2 separate regions of the Homo sapiens genome follow, and region 1 is linked to region 2. Evidence: fine-mapped expression QTL. A gene starts in region 2. The other region holds a variant in brackets. All regions are shown on one strand. Distances are between the middles of the regions. Region 1 overlaps SARS1 (seryl-tRNA synthetase 1). Region 2 holds the start of SARS1 (seryl-tRNA synthetase 1).

Region 1 (15,996 bases), 30 kb before region 2:
CGGCCCCGGGCCCAGCCCCGCGCTCCCTCGCCTCCCCGGCGGGCGGGCGAGCTCTGCAGAGTCGCGGCGGCGGCTCATTACCATAGACCTGCTCGCGCCGCGGCCGCCTTAAAGCGGCAACGCCGGCCGCGCTGGAGGAGGTGGGCCCCACCCAGAGCACTCCTCCGCCCAAAGCGCCAGGATTCCCTCCAGCAGGACCCTCCATCCCAATTTCCCCAGGCCGGCCTCGCCAGATGCCCGGTGCGAATTAGCGATCGGAAGCCACACAGCCGATGATAATCATGGTGGAAGTACCCTAAGTATGCCTAGAGGTTTCCAAAACATTTTAAGGGCTCTCAGAGGCCAAGTTTCCAGTTCATTCCAGTCATAAAAGCCCTCGTTGCTGTCCCCTCCCATAGGTCAGACAGAGTTAAAAGGGCCCTGAGCAACACAACAAAGCCTCCAAAATCCCAGAGAAGCACCCACAATGAGTCACCGGGCCCACTCGCTCCCTACCGTCCCCTCCACCCCACCAGCGAGGCTGTTGTCTGACCAGCATGCCCCTTGGGGTCGGGCTGTTGGAAGAATGACCCCAGCCTCATGTTGGACACCACTTGGGCTTTTCCAGGGAAGTAAATTAGAAGGGTCAGAGTGGGTGGAAGCCAGGTGGTGCAAACACACTGTCACCAGATTCGGAGGCCGGCTGCGGTGGAGCCTAGCTTTAACACAGGCTTCCTGGATTCTAGACAAGGGGCTTACACTGCCCCCTGAGGTCCTGTCTAGAGAGGCGGCCTCTCATCCCCTCCTGCCTCCCTGTCCATGTCCTGCGGCTACCCCCTCCTTCCGCCACAGTTTTGTGACCAGCGAGGAGGCCTACCTGGTACCCGGGCTCCTGACCCTCTCCAAGGCAGCTTCATTTGAGAGGGTGTGCAGGATTCCAGGGGTTCTCCAAGAGGACCAGACATGAAGCTGGACCACACGGAGAGCCAGGCAGGAGCCGTGCAGGCGACCCAGAAAAGGCTTCCCTACATCCTGGAGCAGCCAGGGGCCCAGTCAGGTAGTCCCTGGGGGGATGCCCTGGCCTGGGGGGATGCCTGGGCCTGGGTCCCAGCCTCCAACACCACAGCTATGTGACCTTGCTCAAATTCTGTGCCTCAATGTCCCTTTTTGTAAAATGAGGGGATTGAATAAGGTGAATGGTTCTCAAATGTTTATTTAGCAGTAGAATTCTTTTCTTCAAAAGAAATCTGAAGTGGAAGGCCAGAATATAGAACAGATGAGTAGTGCTGCTGGGTTGAAGTGAGGGGGTCAGGGCCTTGCCCCTCTCCACCACTCCCCCAACCAAGAAATCCCTGGGCTGCTCTGTGCAACTTGAGGGTCTGGAGGAACCCATCTGAAAAGCACTGGATCAGGTGCTCCCTTCTACCACTGCCCCCGGTCACAGTGGTGCCACTCTCACTGGGTCACAGCAGAGGATCCCCCAGCCCCAGGCCCAAGGAGTGTCTGTGTGACCACACAGTGAGGCCAAGGATGAGAAATCAGCTTTTCTCTTTTCCCCTGGGGAAACAGGAAAGGAGATGGGCCTTGGGTACAGCAAGAAAGATTAGGGTTAGACTGTGCTCCTGGCAGGATGGATAGAAGTAGGAGGAGGACCCATGGCTCAAGGAAATGCCCTCCCCTTTGACCAAACAGGAGCTTTCTTCCTCTGAGCAAGGCCAAGGGCAGCTCTGGAGATGGAGGCGTGGGTTACACGCCTCCGCAGGGCTCTGCCTCTCTAGACTTCCTCAGACTCTGGAGTTTGGAAGGATCTAGGGGCTGCGTGGGCATTTTGTTCTTCACCTAATAGCCATGTGGTGCAGAGAATGCTTGGAAATTATACCATCTGTTAATTATCCTTTGAATTGGGGTTGGGTAATGAGACTCTCATTTCTGGTGAAGGCCCAAGCCAACCCGTGGAGAAGCTGCAACTCTCCATTCATCTCGCTCCCTTTGTTGCTAAAATAAGCTTTCTGGGTGGGAGGAAAGAGTAGCCCTGGCTCTGGATCACGGAAGGTGGTTCTGGGGCCTTGCACCTTGAGGCAGGGGTTGCCAGGGAAGGCATGAGCTCAGAAGCCCCTTCCAGGTGGGTGGCCTTTCCACCCAAAGGCAGATAGGTTGGGGGATCCAAGGAACCCTTTCCTTCATCCCCAAGCACATTTGGCAAATAGTCCTTAATCCTCCCCAGTCCTCCCTCCGGGGGCACAGGACAGAGCTCTCTCCCCATCACTTCCTCAGATACTTCCAACTCCCAAAAGCAGGAGGGAAATTTCCAAGTTTCATATGCATCACTGAGAGTCTCAAATGAGGGAGGGGTTGCCCTGGTGGAGGCCTCCCTGATCCCCAGGGAAGGGCTGCCTGCTTCATGGAGCTTTCCAGTTGTAAGGAACCTATGGACCTCCCTCCTGTGTGTAAGGGACATTTAGGCCTCCCTTCTGCATAGCTTTTAGGTGCTATCAAGGGGCAGCAAGGGCTTGGGGTCTGTTAAAAGAGAATTTATTGTTCTTCTAGTCCAAACCTCCCACTTCACAGTGGAGGCTCTGGGAAGGAAGGAAACCTGCTTGGCTAGCCTTGCGGCTGTCCTTTAGCTCTGGTGGGATTTCCTTACTCAGGTTGCTTCCTGAGGACCCCCTGGATAAGGCATGGCCCTGGCTTTCAACACAACAGGGTCGCATGGGTGAAGTGCTCCAGAAGCAACTGAGAGAAAAGGCTAAAGGAATTCAGAGGACAGAGCAGTGAGGGTGGAGGAAATCCCAGAGGGCCTCTAGAGGAGACGGGACTTGGGCTGCATCTTCAAGAATCAGGAACAGCATTCCTGGAAGAGGAATTCATCAGTTAAGTCACTTAATCTACACATTAAGTGTCTTCTCCATGATTATACAGCTAGTAATGGAAGAGCTAGGATTTGGACCCCGGCAATCTGACCCCAGAGCCCACTCTCTTAAGCAGTACACTATGAATGAATGAAAGGAATGAATGAAATGCAAGCATCAGCTTGGCTGGAGCTGAAGATTGGGGTGGCTCTGCTGTGGCCTAGCACGCTGGTGAGGAAGAACAAGGTGAGCTCTGCCTTGGGCAGATCCCTGTGGCCTGAAATTCTGGAACCAATGGCCTGCTGGGAAGGAGGGGTGGGGAGGGAGGCTGCTGATGGGATCGGTCATGGTGACCTTTTGTGGGTGGGCAGGGCAGTTTCTCTGGAAAGAGAAAGAGGCCCTGGCACCCGATCCCATTTCTGGGCTCTGTGCTGCTTTAGAAAGGGCACAGAAACCAGAAGGAGAGAACCTGGCCATGGGTGACTCCTGGAGCTCCTGGACTGTGGGGTGGGTGGCGTGAAGGAACCAGGAGCCAGCAGACTGGGGGATGGGGGTGGCCAGAAATCTGAACACCCTTCGGTCTACACTTGCCTGTCGTGCCCCGCCCACTGTTCCCCACTTTCTTCAAGGCTGGAAGGTGCACTCCTTGTGGGGGCTCTGTTGTTTCTCAGTTCCCCACTTCAGGTCTGTCACAGAGGGGGATACTCAGTCAGGATTTTATGGATTCTTCATGTGGTCACCTCCCCTCCAAACCAGTCTCTGCTCGGCAGTGAAAGTAATTTTTTTTTAAACTAATAAACATTTTTAGGTTTAAAAAATCTCCCCCAGTTTTTTATTTGGGAAAATTTCAAGCCTTCAGAAAAATCAAAAGAATGGTGTAATGGTATAATAAATACCCAGATATTCTCCTGCTAGATTCAACAATTTTTATTTTATTTTTTTCAGACAGGGTCTCACTGTGTTGCCCAGGCTGGAGTGCAATGGTGTGATCATAGCTCACTGCAGCCTTGACTGCTTGAGAACAGCCCCAAGTGATCCTCCCACCTCAGCCTCCTGAGTAGCTAGCTGGGACTACAGGTGCAGGCCACCCATGCCCAGCTTTTTTTTTTTTTTTTTTTTTTTTTTTGAGAGGGGGTCTTGCTGTGTTGCACAGGCTGATCTCAAATCCTGGTCTCAAGTGGGATTACATATGTGAGCCACTGTGCCTGGTGTCTGGATTCAATAATTGTTGACACTCTGCTTTATGTCTCTCAATTTTTGAAGAATGAGAGGAAAATGAGGTGCCTGAGCCCTGGGCCCCTCCGCAGGCAGCTCCTGAGAGTCAGGGAATGCAGTATTTTTTTTTTTTAATTTTTTTTGAGACGGAGTCTTGCTCTGTTGCCCAGGCTGGAGTGCAGTGGCACAATCTCGGCTCACCACAACCTCTGCCTCTCGGGTTCAAGTGATTCTCCTGCCCAGCCTCCCAAGTAGCTGGGATTACAGGCATGCACCACCATGCTCGGCTATTTTTTGTATTTTTAGTAGAGATGGGGTTTCACTATGTTGGCCAGGCTGGTCTCAAACCCTTGACCTTGTGATCCGCCCGCCTCGGCATCCCAAAGTACTGGGATTACAGGTGTGAGCCACTGTGCCTGGCCAGGAATGCAGTTTTGTGGGTAAAGTGAATGAGTTTAGAGCTGCCCTTAGAGTAGCCTAGAGACCCAGCTGGGCTACCAGATGGTGGCTCCAGGTATAAAGAGACATCTGGTCAGCCCTCTCTGCCATCCATCCAGTCATCAATCCATCCATCCATCCATCCATCCATCCATCCTTCCTTCCTCATTTCAGGTATTTATTTTTTGACCAATATTTTCCAAGTGCCTCCCCTTCTTCCCTTTCTTGCACACCCACAGGACTGCTGCTTCGACCAGGAACATGAAGGGGAATTCCTGGTATCATCTAATATCCAGTCCAATCCAAATTCCTTACTGTCTCCCAAAGGTCTTAGACAGCTGCTGCTTTCAAGTTCGTGGATTACATTTGGTCATATGTCACTCTTTTTTTTTTTTTTTTCTCTCTCTCTCTCTCTCTTTCCTTTTTTGTTGACATCGACTGAAGAGTCCAGTTTTCTTATTGAAGTGCCACATTCTGCATTTATCTGATTAAAGGATACCTAATGGTATCCTTCACAGGGTACTATTGCACGGCCTTAGATCTGAGCATGTCATTCCCCTTCTGAAAACCCTGCCGTGGGCCTCTGTTGTACCTTGAATAAAATCCAGCGTCCTTATATTTATCCACAAAGTCCAGTGTGGAGTGGCCCAGCCTCTTCTCACTCCTCCCCTTTCACTCTGTTCTGGACATGCTGGCTTCCTTCCAGCTGTTGAACATGGCAGTCTTAAATGCCCCCACTTTCCTGGCACATATGACAACTTGTAATTAGAGTATTCACTTGGCTAACATCAGTCTTACCCACTGGCAGTGAGCTCCAGGACCAGCGAGAACACATATGTCTTGAATGCCTATCACCTAGCACCTAGCACAGGCCTGACACACACAGTAGGCACGTGGAAAATATTGGTCAAAAAATGAATACATGGGCCAGGCATGGTGGCTCATGCCTGTAATCCCAGCAAATTGGAAGGCCAAGGCAGGTGAATCACTTGAGGTCAGGAGTTTGAGACCAGCCTGGCCAACATGGCAAAACTCTGTCTCTACAAAAAATACAGAAAGTAGCTGGCCGTGGTGGCATGCGCCTATAATCCCAGCTACTTGGGAGGCTGAGACGTGAGAATCACTTGAACCCAGGAGGCAGAGGTTGCAGTGAACCGAGATCATTCCACTGCACTCCAGCCTGGGTGACAGAACAAGACTGTCTTAAAAAAAAAAAAAGATAAAAGATAAAATGAATACATGAATGGAGGATGGATGGATGGATGGAAGAGAGGGGTGACCACATGTCCCTTTATGCCTGGAGCCACCATCTGGTAGGCCAGTTGGGTCTCTAGGCTGTTTTAAGGGCAGCCCTGAACTCATTCACTTTAACCACAAAACTGCATTCCCCATGCCTGCTGCAGCCAGGGGTAGAGGTTTTGATGTCCCAGCCCTGTGAGATAGACCTTCTTTGGCGCTTGTTAAAAGATGATATTGGATGCTTTATCCTAGTGATAGGTTCCACCCACAGTGCCAGTGTTCTTTGTCAAGGGTGGCTTAATAGGCCCAGCATTCCATAAAGATGTAAAGCCATCTAAGATCCAGCTGAAAATACTGCCTCTGACCACCGGGCAGGAAGAGATGGAACCTGGGGCTGAGCTTCGAGCGGCAAATCCCTAAGCACCCTCTGAATAACGTGGCTGTTCAGGCTGTCAGAGCAGGCCAAGGAAGGAGGCCCTGTCTGGCCAGAGCCATGCTCCAGCCACGGTGGTAGGTGGCTAAGTGTGAGAGGTACACAGATGAGCTATGTCCCCAAGGGACAGCCAGTCCCTTGGACAGAGACAAAAGCTGTCACAGAGCAATAGTCACTAATATTTTTGTGTGGGGGTGGAGGAGTTAGGGAGGGCTTTTTAAAGAAGGTGGCATTTGGCCGGGCACAGTGGCTCGTGCCTATAATCCCAGCACTTTGGGAGGCCTAGATGGGCGGATCGCCTGAGGTCGGAAGTTTGAGACCAGCCTGACCAACATGGAGAAACCCCGTCTCTGCTAAAAATATAAAATTAGCCAGGTGTGATGGCGTATGCCTGTAATCTCAGCTACTTGGGAGGCTGAGGCAGGAGAATCGCTTGAACCCAGGAGGCGGAGGCTGCGGTGAGCCGAGATCGCACCATTGCACTCCAGGCTGGGCAACAAGAGTGAAACTCCATCTCAAAAAAAAAAAAAAAAAAAGAAAGTGGCATTTGAGCTATCTTGAAGAGGAAGGAAGAATTCCACTAATAGGCAGGAGGAAAAGGCATCCAGGCAGGGGGAACAGTGTGAGCAAGCGTGGAGAGGTGCAACACACGGTCAGTGCCAGGAAACAGGAGGAAACAAGGGGGCGGTGAGAATAAGGAGCAGAGAGCCGCTAATCTGAACTGGGGGCACATTTTGATGAGCTGGGGCTCCAGCTGAGAAGTCTGGACCTTATAAGTTGAGGGGAACCATCTGAAGTGTTTTGGCAGGGGAGGAATGATCATGGCTGTGCCATCTGGCAGGCTAATCTGGCACAGTGAGGAGGCTGCGCCGGAAGAAGGGACTGAGGTCCAGCAGACTAGCAAGGAGGCCGCTGTAATAGTCCAGGAGGAGGAGGGCTGTGCTGGGGCCAGGGAGCAGGCTGTCAAGGGGGCAGACCTGAGTGATGAAGACTCAATGGCGCTGCGAAACAGACTGGCCCCTGGAGATGAAGAGGAGGGAGTTGTCCAGGGTGAGTCTCAGGTGTGTGTTGGGGTGCCTGAATACTAAGAGGAGATGCCCAATGTGTATGCTGGGGGTGGGTGGAGATGCTCAGATGAGAGAGAATGGATTTGAGAGCCCTGCATGTGGAGGTCACAGAGCAGCAGGGAAAGCGGAGGTGGAGGCCAGCATTAGGGTCAGGTGCCATCTCCTGACCCTGCCCACATCTCCAGCCTCCAGTCAGTATCGCCCTTACTTCATGCTTCAGCCATTCAGGCCTTCTTCCTGTCCCCTCGTGCAGTTCCCTCTGGAACAGTTCACCTTCCCTCTGAGGGGAATGGGGTGAAGGAGGGCCAGGAATGTTAATGAGGTAACAGAGCCTGCAAGTGTCCACTGTTCATTCATCTTTGAGGGAGAGGAGCCAGATGGGATCGCAATTTGACAGGAGCGGCAGGAGTGCAGGATGGCTGTTTTCAGATGGGGAATATGTTAGCAGGTCGGGACTGAGGGGAAGTGGGGCGGGAGGTTCAGCAGAGAGCTAGCTCAAGAACAAGGACTCAGGGGAAGCAGGATGGTGGCGAGTTCCAGGGCACAAGTAGATAAGACCTGGTTTTGGAGAAGGAGTAAAAAAAAAAAAAAGGTTTTCTCTGAGACAAGATGGAAGGAGGCAAGGATGAAGCGTATTCCAAATGGGAGCTTAATTCTTCAATTTCTTCAGGTTTAAAAACCACTTGTCCCAGAAGGTCACACCGTCTTATCAGCAATTTACACCCCAATGAAAATAAACTCCCAGACCATTTTGACAGCAGGTTTGTGTAGGGGGAAGGGAACCAAGTCCCATGGAGGGACAGGGACCAATCTCCAAAATGCAGGGCTTGTGAACCAGCCAGTCAGAGCAGCAGAAGAGGACCCGCCCCTCCGTAACAAGAGGTTCTCTCGGAGGTGGCTGGGACACCCTACCTCCGCCGGAAGGTCCCAGAGAGGTAAAGACCTGGAGTTCAGGGCTTCTTTCCTGGCAGATGGATGGGGAGCTGCACATTGCTGGGTTTCTGCAACATGAACCTGCCTGCAGCACCCCCACCCCACCCCCATGGGGAGGGCTTTTTTAATTTTTATTTTTTTGAGACAGAGTCTCACTCTGTCACCCAGGCTGGAGTGCAGTGGCACAATCTCGGCTCACTGCAACCTATGCCTCCTGGGTTCAAGCGATCCTCCTGCCTCAGCCTCCTGAGTAGCTGGGATTACAGGTGCGCACCACCATGCTCGCCTAATTTTTGGTATTTTTAGTAGAATCAGAGTTTCACCATGTTAACCAGGCTGGTCTCGAACTCCTGACCTCAGGCGATCCGCCCTCCTAGGCCTCCCAAAGCGCTGGGATTACAGGTTGGCCCCGCCGGAGAGGGCTCTTAAAAGGGCAATGTCAGAGGCCGAGGCATCAGCCCCACCAGGACCTGGCCAAGTCCAGGCTGCAAGGAAGCACTCCCCTTTTGTACCTGGGAAGAGCTGCTGGGGAACCCCATGTTGGGAGGTAACTGGGAGAGCGGGGCAGGCCCCTCATCCCGGCACAGGCTCCGACACGCAGTACATTTGTCTGGCGCCCATCCCAGCTCTGCCTGTCAGACTCATCCTGGGAGTGCAGCCAGGGCCGCCCCCGCCGCGTACCCCCTGGGGAAGGATGGGGACTCGGGGAGAGGAGGCATTCTCAGGACCTGGGGTAAACCGGAAAAGCTTCAGGGGAGGAAAAGCAGGACAGACGGCTAGGAGAATGTTGGTTCCCAGGAGTGAGGTTTCAGTGTTTGGCTAATGAGCTGCCCTGCCCAGCCTGGACTGTGAGCGCAGGCAGGTCCCTCGGCCTTACGTTGGGTCCCCAGTTACCAGCCTCTTTAGAGTTTCTAGAAGTCTGGCTTATGGTTGTCTCTCTTGGTGGAGAGGCCAGACTGTTGGTCCCAGTGTTTCCTCACTCCCTGCCTAAAGCACCCAGACCTGCATCTTGGGCCCTGAATACCTGGGTGTGGGAACCCAGGGTTGGTGAGGGACCCAGGGCTCTGACTCACTCCACTAGGCCTCTGGAGGGTGTTTGCTAACTGAGGTAACCTGGGTAGCTGAGGTTGGAGATGGGGCAGGTCAAGGTGCCAGAGATGAGGGCATCAGGCGTGGGATGCGGAGGCAACTACCAGGGTGGAGTCAAGGCTATTGGGCCTGTTCCCAACTGCTCGGCTTCCAGGTGGGTCGGCCCCTCCTAAATGAAGCTTGCATCAGCCCCATCCCACTGCCTCAGGGAGGGAGAGTGTCTGGTTTTCCCTCTCTGAAGGAAGGCGAACCACACCTTTCCCAACAGTTATTTGTGAGCAGGAACTGTGTTACCTTCTTTCTGTAAACCCTGCTCCTAATGGTGCCTGGCACAAGGTAAGCACTCGGTGACCGTGTGTGCCCTCCTGCTGTTGTGCTCTTGGGTATGACCTGTGGGGAGGGACCTCAGCCACAGTCATCCTTGCCTTCACTACCATTGACTTCCTCTCCTCTGGCTTCTGGAAGCATGGGGTCCCTTATAGTTACTTTCTGCTAACAAGCCAGTTTGTCCATACAGCCATCTTCCTAGCCAGGCTCCTACACCAGTCCCTACACGGGCAGGAGGAAGGCTGGCAGGGAAAGCTGGGCTGCCCAAGGCAGGAGGGTCTCTCTGCACAAAGCAGCTGAGAGTCCAGGCAGCCAGCTCCAGCAGGTAAGTCAGCTGGGTCCTCAGGGACTCAAAGCCCCAGCTTCTGCCCTCCCACAGAGCTCTCAGGGCCATGGCAAAAAGCAGAGCCTCCTACTGGTAGGAAGGTGACAGGCACCAGGAGCCTAAGCAGGTAGGCGTGGGGAGTGGTGCAGGCAGCTGTAGGGACTTCTAAGACAGAGCTAAGGCAGAGCAGGGGCGTTCAGGGCCCTGTGAGAGTTCCCAGTGGGCTTCTGGAATGGTATAGGGGGTGGGGCAAAACTAGCCTCCTGCACACTGTGTACGCTGCCTTTCTTCAAACCAAATAGTTGAGGCCACAGGAAATGTGAGTTTCTGGTCCTTCTGAATTACAAATGGGAGCAGCTTGCTCTTTGTCCCCTTGTCCCGGCTTTGTTATCCCAGAGCTGGGGCAATGGGCTACGGCCCAGGCGGGTCTGCCTGTGGGCCCCCAGCTGGCATAGCCAGGCAAGACAAGAGAGCCACTGTCACCCCTTCACGCACCTACCTCAGTTTTGACAGGGTTTCCAGCAGCAAGATTAATAGGATCAATCTCAAGCCCCCAGTGGAAAATGGAGCACATGGCCCCTTTCCTTGGTACTATGCTCCAGCAGGCCCAAGTCGCTGCTCAGGGACTAAGGAAGCTGAGGTGAGATAAAGGCTCCTAAGTGACAGCCCAGTTCACATTCCAGCTCTCAACCTCCCAAAGAAACATAAAGCACTGCCGAGGAGTCAGGACTTCCGACCTCCATCAGGCCACGTTGTCTCATCTCCCTTACCGTCCTTGTATTTCTGTCTTCCAAAGGATGGAATAAGCATAATCATATAATCATGTCCCCACCCTACCTTCTGGGACCATCACAAAGATAAAAGAGATCATCTATAGGGAGTATTTTAACCTCCTAGGAGAGAGGCACTAAACTAACAGAAGCTGTTATTAAAGTAAAGGGTTTGTAGATTGCAGATGAAAGGCAGCAGGTAAATAAACAGCCTGAACATCAGCCTCCCCTGAGAAAGGAACTGGCTATTAGGGCAACAGTGGGAGCTCCACAAAGGGGCTACAACATTTTCTCCTCTCCTCTGCCCTGCTGGCTATCCCAATCCTTTGGAGGTGCAGCAGCAAGTTGGTATGCAGTTGGTCTCCCCATGTGGGGATGGCTGTAACGAGAGAAACTGCTGTTAATAAGTCCCCAACCCATGCTAGGCATAGAAGCTAGGGGCTCTTCTGGATTAAATACAGCCTCTCGCTTTCCACAGAGTCCTTTGTAGGGAACAGAAGTGCTAAGAGGCTTTTAAAACAGTTCTGGTCTCTAAGCTAGTCCTACCTCAATGATTTCAAGCAGGAATATATTTGTAAAGGAGGATCCTGGCCCTTGCCCTGCAAGCTTTTGTGATTCAGACTCCATCTTCCACCTTCCCCTTGAGCTTTTTCTAAGTGTACCCCTCCCTTCGCTTACCTGTTCAAAGGCTCTGTGACTTGCTAACTGGAGGGAGCAGCCTAATTTGGAAGGAAAAGCAGAAGTGTATATCAGGGAGAACCTCAGAGGCGGGGTTCAAGCCCGGGGAAGAAGACTGAGGAAGAGTCCTAAGCCCTCCCCAGAGATGCTTTATTACATGGTTTCATCAGTCATCAATGATGGGTCCCTATGCCCATGCGAGGAGACAGGAACATCTGTGTGGTACATGGCACTGTTCCCCTCTCAGCTACGCAGTCAGATGG[G/C]GGCAGGGGGATGAATGGGTGCTTGGCTTCCCTGCTGTTGGGCAGGCTCTGAGATCTCAGCAGACAGAAATGAAAGCCTGGCAAATAGGGAGGCAGGAATGTTCAAGCATCGGTGACCTCCATGTTCTGCAGCCTGTTTTCTAGGGTGACGTCTCTTGCTGCTGCTTTCTTTTTGCTGCCCTCATGTTGCTTCTTCTGCTTCTTTGATGGCTCCTGCTCAATGGGCGCAGGCTTCACAAAGGGGATCAGTTCTTGCAGTCCTGGGAGGGAAGAGCCAACCAAATGACCTGTTGTTTCTCAGTGAGTCAAAGCCCTAAGACCTCTGGGGAGAATTCAACAAGACAATGATCCCTTTGAACAGAGGGGTCCCTTTGATAGGCACTGGTTTCCTTTATTCTTTTCTTCCCTAGTCTGAATTTTAGCAGCATTTCAACATCATACCTGCACTGGCTACTTTCTCAACCAGGCCCCCTGCCCTGCCCAGCCCGAGAGGGCAGACAGAGTTTCAGGGGCTGTGTCTGAACAAAAAAACCTGGTATATCCTGAAAGGGGACTGCTATTTAGAAGAGTGTGAAGACAGAAAAGAGGAGAACGATGAGATGAGCTGGGAGTTTTACCTGGCGGCATGAACTCCTTCAATTTCTCAGGCACAGTGATGCCCTTCTCTGTCTGGTAGTTCTCCAGGATGGCGCAGATGGTACGGGTAGTGGCGCACATGGTAGCATTGAGCATATGGACAAACTCCACCTGGGAAGACAGGGTCCCAGAGGGGAAGTCGGGCTCAACTCTCATCGGGTCTTACTGACGGCCAGGAACCATCCATTCAACCAGACTTCCCCAACCACAACTGTCCAAATCAAAATGATGGGTTCTACCCCTTAGCAACTTTTTTCTAAATTTGAATTATTTGGTATTTATTGCCTATTAGATAACTGCAGAAAGATCCCTCATGTTTCGATGAGTGACAAGTGGTAGCTTCTGGTATTCTGAGAGTTGGGCCCTTTGAGGGAAGGAAGAAACTACTATTGTGGCCTTTCCTTTTCACCCCTTTCAAGCACCTGACTTGGAAAAGAGTAGGGCCTGAAAATTGGGTTTGAAGAGAGCAGCTTACAACCCAGACCTTCTTGGGTGAGAAGAGGGAAGCCTCCAACTTGTTCTGTGTAGATAAATGGAGATTATTCTTTCTCTGGAGTTAAGAAAAACAAAGCCAGAAAGAGAAAAGCTAGAATTACCTTATAGAAGAGAGCTAGATTCAGGTTTCTAGCTAAAAGAACTCAGTCCTGACTCAGTAGAAGGCATTTTCAGATTCCCTTTTTGGTCTAGATTGAGAAGCTCAGATTTTCCCATGATGCTGGGGACCAGTGCACCCCAAAGGCTGAGAAATAATTCGGACGGGCCGTGTACTGAAGACTCTGCTTCCCACCTCCCTGGGGGCCATCTACCTTGTCCATCATCTTCTTGGTTTGCCCATATCGGATTCGAAGCCGGCGAGCCTGGTAATCCGTGCAATTAGAACAGGAGACCAACTCACGGAAGGCTCCTGAGCCCGGAAACCAGGCCTCCAGGTCAAGCTTCTTACTGGCAGCATGATTCAAAGAACCTGTAAGGAAAAACCCCTAGAATTCATGAAGGAGGGATGGTATTTCAGAAGGCTAACCTTTAGCAAGCCTGAAGAATTCTTTAATTCATGTCCTGTCTCCAGAGGTGAAATCACACCCAGATATTCTTAACACCAAATACTCCCAAGTGAGAAGAGTGTAATATTTTAATTAATGTGGGCAATGAGTTGAATTGTGAGCTGTTTCTCTGTGTGGCAGCTCAGCTGGTAAGGGTGGCGTCTGGGATTACAGGAAAGGGAGGCTGAGAAGAGGCTGGGTCCCATACCTGAGACAATATTCACAATGTGGTAAGGAATCCCCAGGGACTGGTAGAACTCCTCTGCGGTGGTAATCATCTCTTCAAACATCTCCCATGACTTGTTGTCATGGGGTGATGAGTACACAAACTGTTCAATCTGCAGAGAGGGACCCAAGGAAACGGTGACAGCGGTATAGGGTGAATAAAGGACTGAAGTGGGAGACATCCTTGCCATGAAGACCTGTTTCCACACCACTGGGAGGCAGGCAAGTCTGGGCCCCCAGCAACTGGGACTGGACCACAAGAGCAAATGCTTATGGTGCGAGCTTCCCGTATGCATGCCAGCCCCTGTTCTGAGTGCTTTACATATAGTGACTGGGATAATCCTCACAATAGGCCACAATAGGCCTGGTGAGGCAGGCACTGTTACTGTTATCCTCCTCATACAAAGGCAGAAATGGAGCACTGGGGGCTTATGCATTATGCCCAATGTTACACAGCTGGTGAGTGGTAAAGCCGCAGCCTGGTTTCAGGGTCCATAATCCACGCCACTCCACCATGCACTTCCCCAGAAACACAGAGGTAAGCAATGAGAGGAAAAGCTGGAGCCAGGATGGGCCTCAGCAACACAGATCCTATCTCTCATCTAACCATTCTGGAGACAGAGAAAGTTCCACTCCTTACCCTGACCCATCTACTCACCTTCTCAAACTGATGGACTCGGAAGATGCCACGGGTGTCACGGCCATGGGAGCCCACCTCCTGACGGAAGCAGGTAGACAGGCCAGCATACTTGATGGGCAGGTCCTCCGGCCGGAGCCACTCATCCCGGTGCAGGGCAGCAATGGGCTGCTCTGAGGTGGCAATCAGGTACTTCTCATCATAGGAGTTGTCATCAGACTTTTCACTGCCTTTGCCAATCACCTGTGGAAGGAAGGAGCTATACCAGTTAAGAGGAAGTGGGGAGGACCTTGGCTAGAATAAGAAACCACAAGAAAGAGATCAATAATAGTGCAGGAAAAATTTCCTTTAATCCCTGCCTGGGAGTGGGGAGAGAATACTAAAAAGATAAAGGAATGGGTCAGTCCAAAATGGGGTCCCTGACAGAGATCAAAGAAATGTAAATTAAGAGGAAAGAATATTTTCCACTTATCTTTTTTTTGCTTTTGAGACAGAGCCTCACTCTGCTGCCCAGACTGGAGTGCAGTGGCACAATCTCGGCTCACTGCAACCTCCACCTCCCAGGTTCAAGCGACTCTCCCACCTCAGCCTCCTGAGTAGCTGGGATTACAGGCACGCGCCACCACGCTCAGCTAATTTTTGTATTGTTAGTAGAGACAAGGTTTCACCATGTTGGCCAAGCTGATCTCGAACTCCTGACCTCAGGTGATCCACCTGCCTCAGCCTCCCAAAGTGCTGGGGTTACAGGCGTGAGCCACTGTGCCCAGCTATTTTCCACTTATCTAATACAGAAAACTCATCCATGATGAATAATGGTCAATGCTGGCAGGTATGCAATAAACCTGTGCTGGTAGCCACATACATTAATCCTTGTGAGACGTTTACTAAACACCAATGTGGAGCAAAAAGGGACACCAGTCTCTGCTTTCTTGGTGCTTACAGGTTAGTGGTTATGATCCTTAAAGAATATACTTTGCTGTTCAACTGAAGAAAATAATGCAAAAAAAAAAAAGTTCAGACAGGACAAAGTTCACTGTAACATTATTTATGTAATATTATACAACCATAAAAATGAAGACCATGCAGTAACACAGAAAAATACTTTTGATATAATGATACATAAAAAGGTGGCCAGGCACGGTGGCTCATGCCTGTAATCCCAGCACTTTGGGAGGCCTAGGCAGGCAGATCACTTGAGGTCAGGAGTTCAAGACCAGCCTGGACAACTTGGTGAAACCCCGTCTCTACTAAACATACAAAAATTAGCCAGGTGTGGCCAGGCGTAATGGCTCATGCCTGTAATCCTAGCACTTTGGGAGGCCAAGGCGGGTGGTTCACCTGAGGTCAGGAGCTCGAGACCAGCCTGGCCAACATGACAAAACCCCATCTCTACTAAAAATACAAAAAAAAAAAAAATTAGTCGGGCATGGTGGTGGATGCCTGTAGTCCCAGCTACTCAACAGGCTGAGGCAGGATAATCCCTTGAACTCGGTGCGTAGAGGTTGCAATGAGCCGAGATCATGCCACTTCACTTTAGCCTGGGTGAAAGAGTGAGATACCGTCTCAAAAAAAAAAAAAAAAAAAAAAAAATTAGCCAGGTGTGGTGGCGACGCCTGTAATCCCAGCTACTCGGGAGGCTGAGGCATGAGAATCACTTGAACCCAGGAGGCAGAGGTTGCAGTGAGCCAAGATCGTGCCACTGCACTCCAGCCTGGGTAACAGAGTGAGACTCTGTCTCAAAAAATGAATAAATAAATAAAAATAAAAATTAAAAATAATGCTAAGTTAAAAGGCAATTTATGTACATGGCAATTATAAGTATGTGAAAACAACATATATATGAAAAAAATCCC
Region 2 (12,572 bases):
GAGATGGGGTTTCACCGTGTTAGCCAGGATGGTCTCGATCTCCTGACCTTGTGATCTGCCTGCCTCGGCCTCCCAAAGTGCTGGGATTACAGGAGTGAGTCACCGCACCGGGCTAGTTTCAGTAATTTAAAAATACTGATTATGTGTTGAAAATATAATTTCGGGGCTGGGCGTGGTGGTTCACACCTGTAATCCCAGCAGTGTGGGAGGTCGAAGTGGGAGGATCACTTGAGTCCAGGAATTCGAGACCAGCCTGGGCAACAAAGTGAGACTCTGTCTCTACAAAAAATTAAAAATTAGCTGGGCATGGTGGTGCACACCTGTGGTCCCAGCTACTTAGAAGGTTGAGGTGGGAGGACCAGTTGAGCCCAGGAGGTCCAGGCTGCAGTGAGCTGTGATCATGCCACTGCATTCCAGCCTAGGCAACAGAACAAGACGCTGTCTAAAAATAATAATAATAATTATATATATATTTATATATATATAACTTTTGGGTATACAAGACTAGGTTAAATAAAATGTATTACTAAAATTAATTTCATCTGTTTCTCTTTATATTTTTTATATTGGATACAAACAAATTAACAATTACAGACTATCGCCAACTTATAATGCTTAAACTTTATGATCAATAGTAATAAATTACATGAGATATTCACACTTTATTATAAAATAGGGTTTGTGTAAGATGATTTTTCCCAACTGTAGGTTAACATCAGTGTTCTGAGCACATTTAAGGTAGGCTTGGCTAAGCTATGATATTCAGTAGGGTATGTGTATTTCATGCATTTTTTACTTACAATATTTTCAACTTATGGTGGATTTATTGGGACATAAACCCATCCTAAGTCAAGGAGCATCTGTATACATGAAGCTAACATTCTATTCCTATCAGACAGTGCTGCTCTAAAGTATGTCACTGCAAAACTTAAGCCTTCAAGTAAAATGATCAGATTTGCATTCTAGAAAGATTATATGCCCTGGTGAGACTGGGTTAAGATTGAAAGCAGATAGAAAGCTATTCCAGTTGCTGGGGCAAACAATGATAAGGACCTGTTTTAAAACATGTGCAGTAAAGGTTATGAGGAAATAACAGCTTTAGCCTGGGCATGGTGACTCATGCCTGTAATCCCAACACTTTGGGAGGCCGAGGTGGGAGGATCGCTTGAGGCCAGGAGTTTGAGGCCAGCCTAGGCAACATGACGAAACTCCATCTCTACAAAAAATACACACATTAGCCAGGCATGGTGGCATTGCGCCTGTAGTCTCAGCTAGTCAGAAGTCTAAGGCAGGAGGATCATCTGAGCCTGGGGAGATTGAGGCTGCAGTGAGCTGTGATCATGCCTGGGTGACACAGTGAGACCTTGTCTCAAATTAAAAAAAAAGGAAACAACAACTTCAATTTTCAATGTACAGTAAAAAGAAAAAAAAAACCACTCAGGATAGCACTTTTTGAGGGAGGATAAAATTCTTGGGGTTTGCAGCAGATTTCCAGTTACATGGAAATCTATTTGCTTTGGGAGTGGGGCCAAGACAAATATGCCCAAGTGTAGGATCATTACGCTACTCTGAATTAAAAAGAAGAAATCACATTCAAATCCCTGGAGTTAGAAGAGTTGTGAGTTCCAATGTGGTATTATCACTCCAAGTTATACTGGACTCCTGAGTTCTCCAAAGGAACCCTAGTGGTACCTTGTAAGTCTACAGGAAGACAAATTGGTATAGTTGTAGTGGAGGGCTTGGTGAAGCTTGCTATGTGTCCTCAATTAGGGAGCATGATCTGAGTTCTTAATGTGGCTCTGGTTATAAGCCCTTGCTCAAGGCAATGAGAGAAGAACTCCATCCTCTGATCTGAAGTTCAAGATGTCAAAGAACCTTGATATAAATCTGCCAGTGTCTACCTTGGGCAGTTGGGAACTTGGGAAAAAACATAAATTCCATTTGGATGCAAAGAGAATATTGGAAAGGGTTGTCAAATAGAAAAGAATCAAATTAATAGATGCATTGGAAATAAACTATTGGCCAGGCATGGTGGCTCACACCTGTAATCCCAGCACTTTGGGAGGCTGAGGCAGGCGGATCACTTGAGGTCAGGAGTTAGAGACCAGCCTGGCCAACATGGTGAAACTCCCATCTCAACTAAAAAAAAAAATTAGCTGGGTGTGGTGGTGCACACCTGTAGTCCCAGCTACTTGGAGGCTGAGGCATGATAATCTCTTGAAACCGGGAGATGGAGGTTGCAGTGAGCCGAGATGGTGCCACTGCACTCCAATCTGGGTGATAATGAGAGACTCCGTCTCAAAAACAAAACAAAACAAAACAAAGAAAAGAAATGACTTCACATTTAGGATTAAGTTTTTTAAAACAATAACATAAACTACATAAACTGCTTTTCATAAAGAATATAAAGTGCCCTGAAGACAGAAAATATTCACGCCTCTAACAAACCTTTATCAAGGCCTTACCAAGGACCAGGTACAGTGCTAGGTACTGGGATTTTATGTATAAATGTGTATATGTATATCCACATATATACTGTATGAATAAAATTGAATCCTTGTCCCTGAAGAACTCACCACCTATCTACTTTTCAGATAAGGGACAAATCCCTCAGATGTGGACATTATACCCAAAAGACTAGCTAACACATTCAAAGTCATTTAGCACTGGCTAAGGGCTGGACTGACACAAAAATCTGATACTCCTGACTTCAGATTCAGTAGAACAGTGCTCAGGCTAGTTTTATCCTAAACAAAAAATGTGGCAAAATTAAATTCCATTGCAACTCGAAACTTCAGGTCAAGTGTGGAATCTCACAATCAAACAAACTACTACAATAGAGGGCCTAAGACATAGAATCAGCACAAAACTCAAGTTAAACAAATATTCTTTTGACATCCAAGATCCTTATAAACAGGAGAAAATCAATTTTCCTAATAGAAATCCATCACACTCTTGGATAGTGGCTGCCTTTGCAGTGTACTGTCATCGACCTAGCTCCCAGATGGTTGCAGACCTATTGCATCAGACAAATCAAATCACAAGTACTTGACAGCATCCGCCCAACCAGCGACCACTCCAGTTAATACAGGCAGAGATTTATGGGCAGATGGTTCTATGGTTTTATTCGGCTTCATGATAGATGCCCGATATGACTCCAAGATCCGGCAGTTCCAGGTTCTAGCCCAACTCTGCCAATGTCTTTAAAGGAAAACGTCCACAAATCACAATTAAACAGCTTCAGTCATTACAATCTTTTGCTCGCCTCCTCACTCCCCTCGCGTTTGATCTACCACGGAAAAGACTTTTCTAATTCTTAAAGGTATGCCCATAGGTCGGGGGATGGCCTTCCGAAAAGCTTCAGGGTCATTTATTTTGGCCAAGAGCGGCCTCCAACGCCCCGAAATGCTTCCGATACCGAAGGAATGAATCTACTGTGTTGCAGAAGTGACGCAGTCTCAGGAGAAGCCTTTGATCCTATCAAAACAAAGGAAAACCACTCTGGCCTTGCTGAAGATGAGAAAAAGACTGGGGGGGACCAAAGATTCGTGTTAGGAAAGCCGCGTAGACCCCACAACCTCCCGCCCCGGCATGTTCTGGCAACCCCTGGGGCAGGAAGGCTTGACAGCTCCCGATGCGCGTGCGTACGCACACTGGCAGCGAACGGCACTGAGCACGCGTGGAAGGGACCTCGCTCCGCCCGGGTGGAGGAGAAAGTGGGATGACCCCGGCGACCAGGCTGTGTTTTCGGGGATGGGGAGAACCTCGGAGCCACCGCACCCTGGGAGGGGGTCTGACGAAGGGTGGAAGCTGTGGCCTCAGGAGCGGTGGCTGGATTTGAGAGAGAAAATTGGGTTTAGCATCAAGGAGGTAACCCGCCCGTCCCGGTACTTACATCGTCGCCACTCGCTGTCTGCCTTCACCAGCTGGTCCACTAGTCCCGGGTCCTTGAAGCGCTTCTCCTGCGTCTCTCGGATGAGGGCTGGGTCCCCTCCTTTATCCACCCGAAACAAATCCAGATCCAGCACCATCTTCTTTCCTCCCGGGCCAACGCTCAGGGAAGCAAGGATCGCGCCGCAGCACTCAGCCTGTGACCGCCGCACTGCGCCGGCGCGCTGACCCGCCCTTCCTGCGCAGGCGCAGCTGGAGCCCGCAGGCGACCCTCCCCGCGACCGGAAGCGGCTGGTTGGAGGCGGGGCCGCGGAGGGAGGGGAGGGGAGAGTGGGTGGGCGTGGGACTATACCTCTGGTTCCTGCTCCCCAGCTCTGCTACAGTCTGCAGGAACTGTGATCGCCACATAAAAGTGTGAATGCCTCAGTTTCCTACTCCTGTCTCAGGCTAGGCAGAGGCCTGTCCCCTCATCCCTAGCTTAGAGGCCGGGGCCTTCACCAGGTGCCCGTTTTCCTCTCACTAGGTTGGGTTCTTCCACTGGGCTCTTTCCCTGAACCTCGGCCGTCTTCTCCATCTTGATACAAGAGGATGGCATATTTAGTCCCAGGGCTACCTCAGCTTAAGATTCCTGCTCTCGTGCCTTAGAAATGGTATACCTTTATTAATCTGATTATTGGATAAACCAAATTGTCACTTTACCAACTCTTAAGAGCACAGCTTTGGGAAAGTGCGGTTGTCTTTTAGAGAGAGACGAGAGAAAACTTTTCCAAAGGGACATTAAGCAGATTTGAACGCCGTATAAGGTGTTGAGGTCATGTCTTGGGTCAATTTGAAAGCGTCTTGAAGAACGGTTTGTATCATACTTTGATTTTATAATGTTCAGACCTTTAAATGAAATATTCTAGTTGCCGAGTGAAGCCAAAGTTATCAAAGAATCTCCCTGATAACAAGAGATTATTTGAAGGATTTGGGAACAGGTGATCTCCTCCCCCACCCCCACCCCCAATCCTTCCACTCTGCAGAAACTTTAAAGCCTCACTTCCAATGCCTTCTCGAAGCTAGATGTGCTAAGACCTTCTTGATCTTATACCGCCGTCATGGACTCCTGAGATGAGGGTGTGACATAGCTAACTATCATATTATTTATTTATAATATGAAATATATTTGGGCTTTGTCCCTGGTTCCTGACACAGCCCCTAAAACCCTTGAATTTCCTGGGTTATACGTAATGGGTCTCTTTGATAACACCTGAGTTTATAATAAGGAGGTGATTTAGGATGGGGGCCCTAGATAACCTTAGGATGGGGCCAGTCACCAGAGAGACCAAGTGATTGGAGGATTGGAACTTTCATCCCCACCCTTCAACCTCCAGGAAAGGGGGAGGGGAGGAGCTGGACATCAAACTCTATAAACGCTCGAACAACAAGAGTTGATGAGCTTCAGGGTTGTTGAACATGTGGAGATGCCAGGAGGGTGTCTTGCCCAGAAAGGTTATGGAAGCTCTGCACCCCTGACACCTTGCCCTATCCATCTCTTCATCTGGCTGTTCATTTGTACCCTTTGTACTATCCTTTATAATAAACTGGTAAATGTTTCCTTGAGGTCTGTGAGCCTTCTCAGCAAATTAATCAGACCAAAGGAGGGGGTAGTGGGAGCCCCAGTTTATAGCTGCTAAGAAGTATAGGTGAAATCTACTACTTGCAATTGGCATCTGAAGAGGAGCAGTCTAGTGGGATCAAGCCCTTACCCCATGGAATCTGACACTACCTCCAGGTAGCTAGTGTCAGAATCAGAATCGAATTGAATTATAGAATGCTTAGCCAATGTCCACTGGAGAATCGCTTGGTGTCTGAGGAACTTACCCCCCAGGGCCCCTCACCACTGCATCTGGTCACAGAAATGTTGTGTGTTGAGTGTGGGTTTTTGTTTTTGTTTTTTGTTTTTTGTTTTTTTTTGCCTCTTACACTATCCCTGCTCCCCAAAAAGCCTCTGCCAAGCCAACCCTGAAGTGTAGGTCAGGTCTAACAACAATGATAGAGCTAAGTAGAGACCCTGAGGGAGGCAGAGGAAAGGGGCTTGTCTGGGTGTGCTCTCCTTGGTTCAACCTGCCTATGGTATTAGATTTAAAACCAGTGGAAAGGAAGGGTGAGGAGCTGCAGTCTTGGAGGAAAACATCTAAGAAGACTCTCCTCAAAGTGTTGGGTTCCCTAAAACCTTCTGAGGGCAAGGTCTGTGATGGGGGCGCTCCCTGCTTCCATGTCATTGAAGGCACCGCCAAAGTGTATTGCCAATTAAGTTTCTAAAACAGTGGCAGGTGTTTCTGAGGCTGAAGTGATCCCAGGCCTAGGGGAGGAGGGCCACTGGGTCAACCCTTTAGGAAGGTCATCAATGTCATTCAACAAGTGATCTTGAAATTCTGATCTCTCCAAATTTATTCATGCATTTTTACAATTGATCTTATCATTAGATTACAAACATCTCCCTTTAAAATGTTCATATGGGCGGGCGCGGTGGCTAATGCCTGTAATCCTAACACTTTGGGAGGCCAAGGTGGGTGGATCACCTGAGGTCAGGAGTTCGAGACCAGCCTGGCCAACATGACAAAATCCCGTCTCTACTAAAAATACAAAAATTAGTTGGGTGTGGTGGCACATGCCTGTAATCCCAGCTACCTGGGAGGCTAAGGTACAAAAATTGCCTGAACCCAGGAGGCGAAGGTTGCAGTGAGCTTAAATCACGCCACTGCACTCCAGCCTGGGTAACAGAGTGAGACTCTGTATCAAAAAAAAAAAAAAAAAAGTTGATGTTACCTGATGAGTATAATAAATTAACATAATAGCATACTTCATCAGCTTAGAATCGTGGGATTTTTAGAGTTGGAGGGGAGCTTCAGCTATCTGTTAACTTAATAATTCCTGATTTTTTCATCACCTTGTCCCTCATGTTTTGAAATATTTTTGTCTAATGAACATGATTTTTAAAAAATAATAATTTGCCTTTTTTATTAATCAGATCTATATGGCTGCCACCTAGAAATTCTGATCAGCAGGAAATAGGCAGTGTTACTGCACCAAGTAACTCCTGCCAGAAGCTAACGCAAAAACAAATCAACATAAAAACTTTCGTTATGGAGTGATGGTGTGAAGCCCTGCCACCTTTGAATATGTGATTTCTGTTAACCCTTACTACCAAGAATGCTCTTGGGCACTGCCTCTGAGGACTGAAGTGCTCAAGAAGCCCTGACTGGAAAACAGCCAGCCAGGCTAACCCTTTTATTTTCTATATAAGGAAACAGCCCCAGAGAAGATAAGTGATGGAATCAAAACCAGGACACAGGTAAATACCTAAGATAGCCTAATGTTTGGGCTTTGCCCTTTTAGTAGCAATCCTTAGCAGAAAACAGGTCAGTGAGGACCCTGACTATGCTATGGGGCCTGATCTTATAGGGCAGAGACCATTGCGTATTTGCATTTTTCTCCCCACGGGACCTAGCACCCTGCCTTACCCATGGTAAGTGCTTGTTACATCCTCCCTGAGTGAGTGGGTTGCGAGGAAGTAGGCTGAGAGGATGGGAGCTTGTTGCAGGTCAGCGAGCAGAGTCCTGGGTGAAGATACTGCCTTGGGGATCCTGGGCAGCTAGTGGGCAGCCTAGGGGAAAAGAGCAACTGCAGAGACGGAGCAAAAAAAGCGGGTGTGAGGCACCCAACAAAAGCTGCCTACCTCAGTTTTCCCAGTTTGGAGCTGGCTAACTCGGAAGGGTTCTCTGAGGCCTCACTGTGGCAGCCCTTTGTGTTCCTCTGTCTTGGATTTGGAGTAGGGTTTCTCAATGTTCACCGAACAAGTCCGGTCCTGTCACTCCCTTGCTAGAAGTCTTCTGTGGATACCTGTTACCCTCAGGGGAATCCAAACATGGCTGGCAACGCTATATATGATCTGTCCCTACCAGCTTCTCTAACATGTTCCCTCTTTATCTCGTGTGTGTGTGTGTGTGTGTGTATGTGAGACTGAGTCTCACTCTGTTGCCCAGGCTGGAAAACAGTGGTACAACCATGGCTCACTGCAGCCTCGACATTTCCAGCTTCAGGGGATCCTCCCACCTCAGCCTCCCGAGTAGCTGAGACTACAGATGTGTGCCACCATGCCCCAGGCAATGTTTGTATTTGTTTTTGTTTTGGTAGATACAGGGTTCTGCCATGTTGCCCAAGCTGGTCTCGAACTCTTGGGGTCAAGCAATCCACCCACTTTGGCCTCTTAAAGTGCAGGGTTTACAGGCATGAGCCACCTCACCTGGCCCTCTTTATCTCTTAACATTTCCCCCTCGTATTCCCCATTCCAACCTTCTTGTGGCTCCCTTCCTTCCCTCTGAGCCTTTGGTTGCACAAGTTCCTTCTACCTGGAACTCCCTTTCCCTTCTCTGTTCCTCTTACCTGGCTAATTCCTCCTTTCTCCTGGAAGCCTTCTCTTACATCCTCTTTACCCCTCCCTGCAAATTGGTTAGACACCCTTCCCGTTTCCCACAGTACAGTAGTATTGATGATACTGTTTCAGGAGGAACTGACAACCCTGCCTCCAGTTCTGGCTTACCCACTCCCTTCTATCAGAGAGACACAGTAACAAAGGAGGTCCACGTTGCTATCCTTCAGCAACTAAGCAGGAATCATTTAAAAATAGCGTGGGTCGGGGAAAGCTGCCAGGACTTGGAGGGACTTTGATCCAGCCTCTCCATCTGATAGAATTGGGGTGCGAAATCAATTCTCCCACCACACTGTATCTTACGGTAGTCTCCAGTGGATGCCTGAAACCACGGAGAGTACGGATCCCTACATATACTGTGCTTTTTCGATCTGGTAACTCAGATGGCTGCTAAGTGAGTAATGGGTGGATAGTGCAGACAGTATGGATACTCTGGACAAAGGGATGATTCATGTCCCAGGTGGGAAGGAGTGAGATGGCACAAGATGTCATTATGCTACTCATAATGGCATACAATTTAAAACTTATAAATTGTTTATTTTTGGAATTTTCATTTAATATTTTTTGACTTAAGTTGACTTTAGGTAACTGAAACTGTGGAAAGTGAAAGTACCGTTAAGGCTGAACTACTCTATAGGGAATTGCATTTTATGTGGGATTGTTAACTTTGGCACTGAGACAAAATTAGTTTATATTTCAAATTCTCCTTGAATAGCTCTTAAAAACCCTAAATCAGTTTCTCTATCTCTTAATACTCATTGTTGCTCTATGCTTCCCAGTTAATTAATTGTCTTCCTTAAGATTTAGACCAAGTCGTAAGTATATTCTTGCCTGGTCACCTGATAATGTATTTTACTTCTTTGTCAGTGATTGGGAAATTCTTAAAATCATTTCCATATCATTACACACCCCTCTCACTGCCCCGCAGTTTCAAGCTTGATTGTGTCTGTTGCTTGTTTGTTGCATTGCACAGTACACGGTTGTATTCATAAAGATTCATAGCGGTACTCCCATGGGACTGTTTTTGCCCTGTTATTTCCCACAGTGGGGTGACGTGGAAGGCTGAGTGGGATCTGTGAGGTGAAAAGGAAGCAGAGGGGCAGAGAGGAGAGCATATTCCAATGCTGGAGGCATGAAGGTGCTTATGACTCAGAGACCATCAAAAGCTCAGTGTGGTTAGAGTAGAAACAATGTTGGGAAGGTGGGCCGGTGGGCCGTTAGGGACCCTGTAGGCCACGTAACTGAATCTATTGGAGACACAGTTTCTTCCTCTATTGTAATGGGTGTAATGGGGATAGTAGCTGCCTCCAGGGCTGTTCTGAAAATGAAAAAAGGCAATGCTGTGAAAGCATTAAGTCCAGGCTTGACACAGATGCCAAACGAATGCGTTTTCTTTTCTACTTACCTTCTTAGAGTTTGGACTGTATGTTATAAGCAGGGGTGATGTTCAAAATATTTAACCACCAGTACAACCCAGGTACCACCCAGTCAAAGTAGATGTGGGTCATAAACAACCAGCCTTGGAGTGTAGGTGAGCTGCTGCCAATTGCTCCTGCCTGACAGCAATAAGGAGCCATCAGAGATGGCACATTTGAGTGCCATCAGATGTGTTAGAAAAACGGCTCTGAGTGTTCCAGCTCTTGTAGAATTTTTTTATTTTTTTTACAGACAGGGTCTGCCTCTGTCACCTAGGCTGGAGGGCAGTGGTGCAATCCACCATCATAGCTCACTGCAACCTCAACCTCCTGGCCTCAGGCGATCCTCCAGCCTGGCCCTCCCAAAGTGCTGGGATTACAGGCATGAGCCGCCACACCCTCTTTTAGAATTTGGTTAGCAGGTTTTCTGCCTTTTACCAGAAAACTTTTCATGAAAAAAAGAAAAAGAGCTCTGGCTACAGAGCAGGGGGGTGATACTGGTGTGGGAAGCACTGGCGCGGAGAGGCCTGTTAGAAGACTAGAAATTACCTAAGGACCCTGACGAAGAACATCTGGCACTTAGTGCCATTCAGTCTGAAAAGTGTGACATTCCCAACTCATCTATTAATAGCTGAGAGAATTATTTTTGGGGATCAAGTGCCCTCAACTAGAATAAAGTCCTGAAGCAGAAAAATCCTGCCAGGCACGCTGGCTCATGCCTGCAATCCCAGCACTTTGAAGGCCAAGGTGGGCAGATCTCTAGAACCCAGGAGTTTGAGACCAGCAACATGGTGAAACCCTGTCTCTCCAAAAAATACAAAAATTAGCCAGGTGTGGTGGCGCATGCCTGTAGCTACTCAGGAGGCTGAGGTGGGAGGATCACTCAAGCCCAGGAGGTTGGAGCTGCAGTGAGCTGAGATTGTGCCATTGCACTCCAACCTAGGCAACATAGTGAGCCTCAGAAAAAAAAAAAAAAAAAGAAAGAAAGCAAAAATCTAGCAACCTCAGGAAATGGTAGGCCCTTGATATCATCTAGGATTTTCTCCACATCTAGTCTGTAATAATCTACTTCATACCCAAAGAAGCTAATTTTGCTTCTATTTGTGGATTTATTGTTATGTGGCTGGCCTCATGTTTCCTGAAAGAAACCTGAGCAGAAGGGAAGGGAAGTAGCATGCGAAGTGGTTTATGAGTTATTTCTTTTGAGCTCATTCAATCTTGGTGTGTTGGGTATCATTAGATGCATTTTATTATTGTGGAAACTGAGGCTTTGGTTATTGACTGATTCCTCAACAAGTAGTGGGAGGCTTCTAGCCTATGTCCATCTTGTTCCAAAGTCTGTGCTCTTTTCTCTGCCTCTCTGCGAATGTGGAATCCTTCTCCTTTTCAGTTTAAGCTTCCAGGACACTTACATTTCCCACTCACCCCTCCAGCCACCCAACCCATGTTTAAGAAAAACAACTTGTAAGGTATGTTTTTATTTTACAAAAAAAAAAAGTGACATGCAATAACCCATCTTCTAACAAACTATTAACGCTTGGATTACAGGGTAAAAAGGAAATCCAACCAGCCCTGATGAAAAAAAATTCGATTTCACAAAGCTGAAAAAATCTATTACAAAGTTTCTGTTGTATAAATATAGTCAGTCTTATCTTTAATGTAGTCAGACAAAAAAAAGTTTTGTTGGCACTAAAACAAAAACAAAAGCAAAAACCCTACTGCTTGAATACACCACAATCTTCATTTGTATTCCCAGCCAAATACAGATGATGTCTATAGCATGACAGTTACTGCATGTTCCAGGACTCAAGGTAACCAAATGAGATTTAAACATTTTATCATACTCCCTCTACCAACAACAGCTTGGACAGACCACTTTAGCCCTGGGTCAAGGACTAAAGCCTTTGTTCATAGAAAATTGAACATGTAGGCCAGGCACGGTGGCTTACACCTGTAATCCCAGCACTTTGGGAGGCCGAGGTGGGTGGATCACTTGAGTCCAGGAGTTTGAGACCAGCCTGGCCAACATGGTGAAACCCCATCTCTACTAAAAACACAAAAATTAGCTAGGCGTGGTGGCGCATGCTTGTAATCCCAGCTACTGGGGAGGCTGAAGCAGAAGGATCACTTGAACCCAGGATGGGGAGGCTGCAGTGAGCCAAGATCATGGCACTGCACTCCAGCCTGGGCAACAAAGCTGACTCTGTCTCAAAAAAAAAAAGGAAAAGAAAATTGAACATGTGTTTGCTCTCAAGTGGGCGGACAACTCTGTGAGTTTGCTGAAAACCATTGAATCGTATGTTTTAAAGGTGAATTGTGTAATATGTGAATTATATCTCAATAAAGCTGTTAAAAATATATGACATGCCTAACTTGCTAGGGGAGCAACAGGTGACCCCAGTAGCGTAACTCAGGAGTTCCTGACAGGTCACAGGGCAGACCTGCAGAAGTCAGCACGGTAAGGGGTAGTAAAAAGTAGCTCCTTAAAGTATTATGGCTAAAATCAGTGGAGTCAGAATAAAGAAGTCAAAGACATATGTAATTTTTCCTACTGTTTCCGGAATAGTCTAAGGGCTGTCTGTGGCCTTTGTCACAAAAGAAAGCTATTCAGTGAGACAGCAGGTGCCCAAGTATTGCTGAGGCTACAGAAGACTTTAGGCTGGAGCTCAGGAGCTGCGTATCTGCATCCACACTGGGGGAAGTTCCAACATGGACACAGGTTCTGAGAGCCTGACTCCTACAAAAGGAGGGGAGAATTTGGATACCCAAAGAAAAACTGGATTTATTAAACC

The links. PIP is the estimated chance that this variant, and not a neighbour inherited with it, causes the effect.
Region 1: its variant is the best candidate, but not a certain one, in a credible set for the expression of SARS1 in lung (TOPMed, PIP 0.84).

Annotation. Positions count from the first base shown.
Region 1 is chr1:109,233,600-109,249,595 of GRCh38, reverse strand. It overlaps SARS1 (seryl-tRNA synthetase 1), which reads right to left. Exons shown (of 11, transcript NM_006513.4): 7 at 14,165-14,386; 8 at 13,490-13,619; 9 at 13,048-13,205; 10 at 12,223-12,352; 11 at 11,414-11,865. The coding sequence ends at 11,708. It overlaps CELSR2 (cadherin EGF LAG seven-pass G-type receptor 2), which reads right to left and starts at 57. Exons shown (of 34, transcript NM_001408.3): 1 at 1-57. RefSeq lists silencers at 1-18, 8,455-8,749, 9,857-10,271 and enhancers at 20-740, 6,602-7,101, 8,760-9,455, 11,396-12,595. The variant G/C (reference allele first, on the strand shown) is at 11,606.
Region 2 is chr1:109,205,452-109,218,023 of GRCh38, reverse strand. SARS1 (seryl-tRNA synthetase 1) reads right to left here and starts at 4,106. Exons shown (of 11, transcript NM_006513.4): 1 at 3,896-4,106. The coding sequence starts at 4,031. ELAPOR1 (endosome-lysosome associated apoptosis and autophagy regulator 1) reads right to left here. Exons shown (of 22, transcript NM_020775.5): 22 at 11,243-12,572. RefSeq lists an enhancer at 3,683-4,042 and a silencer at 4,093-4,312.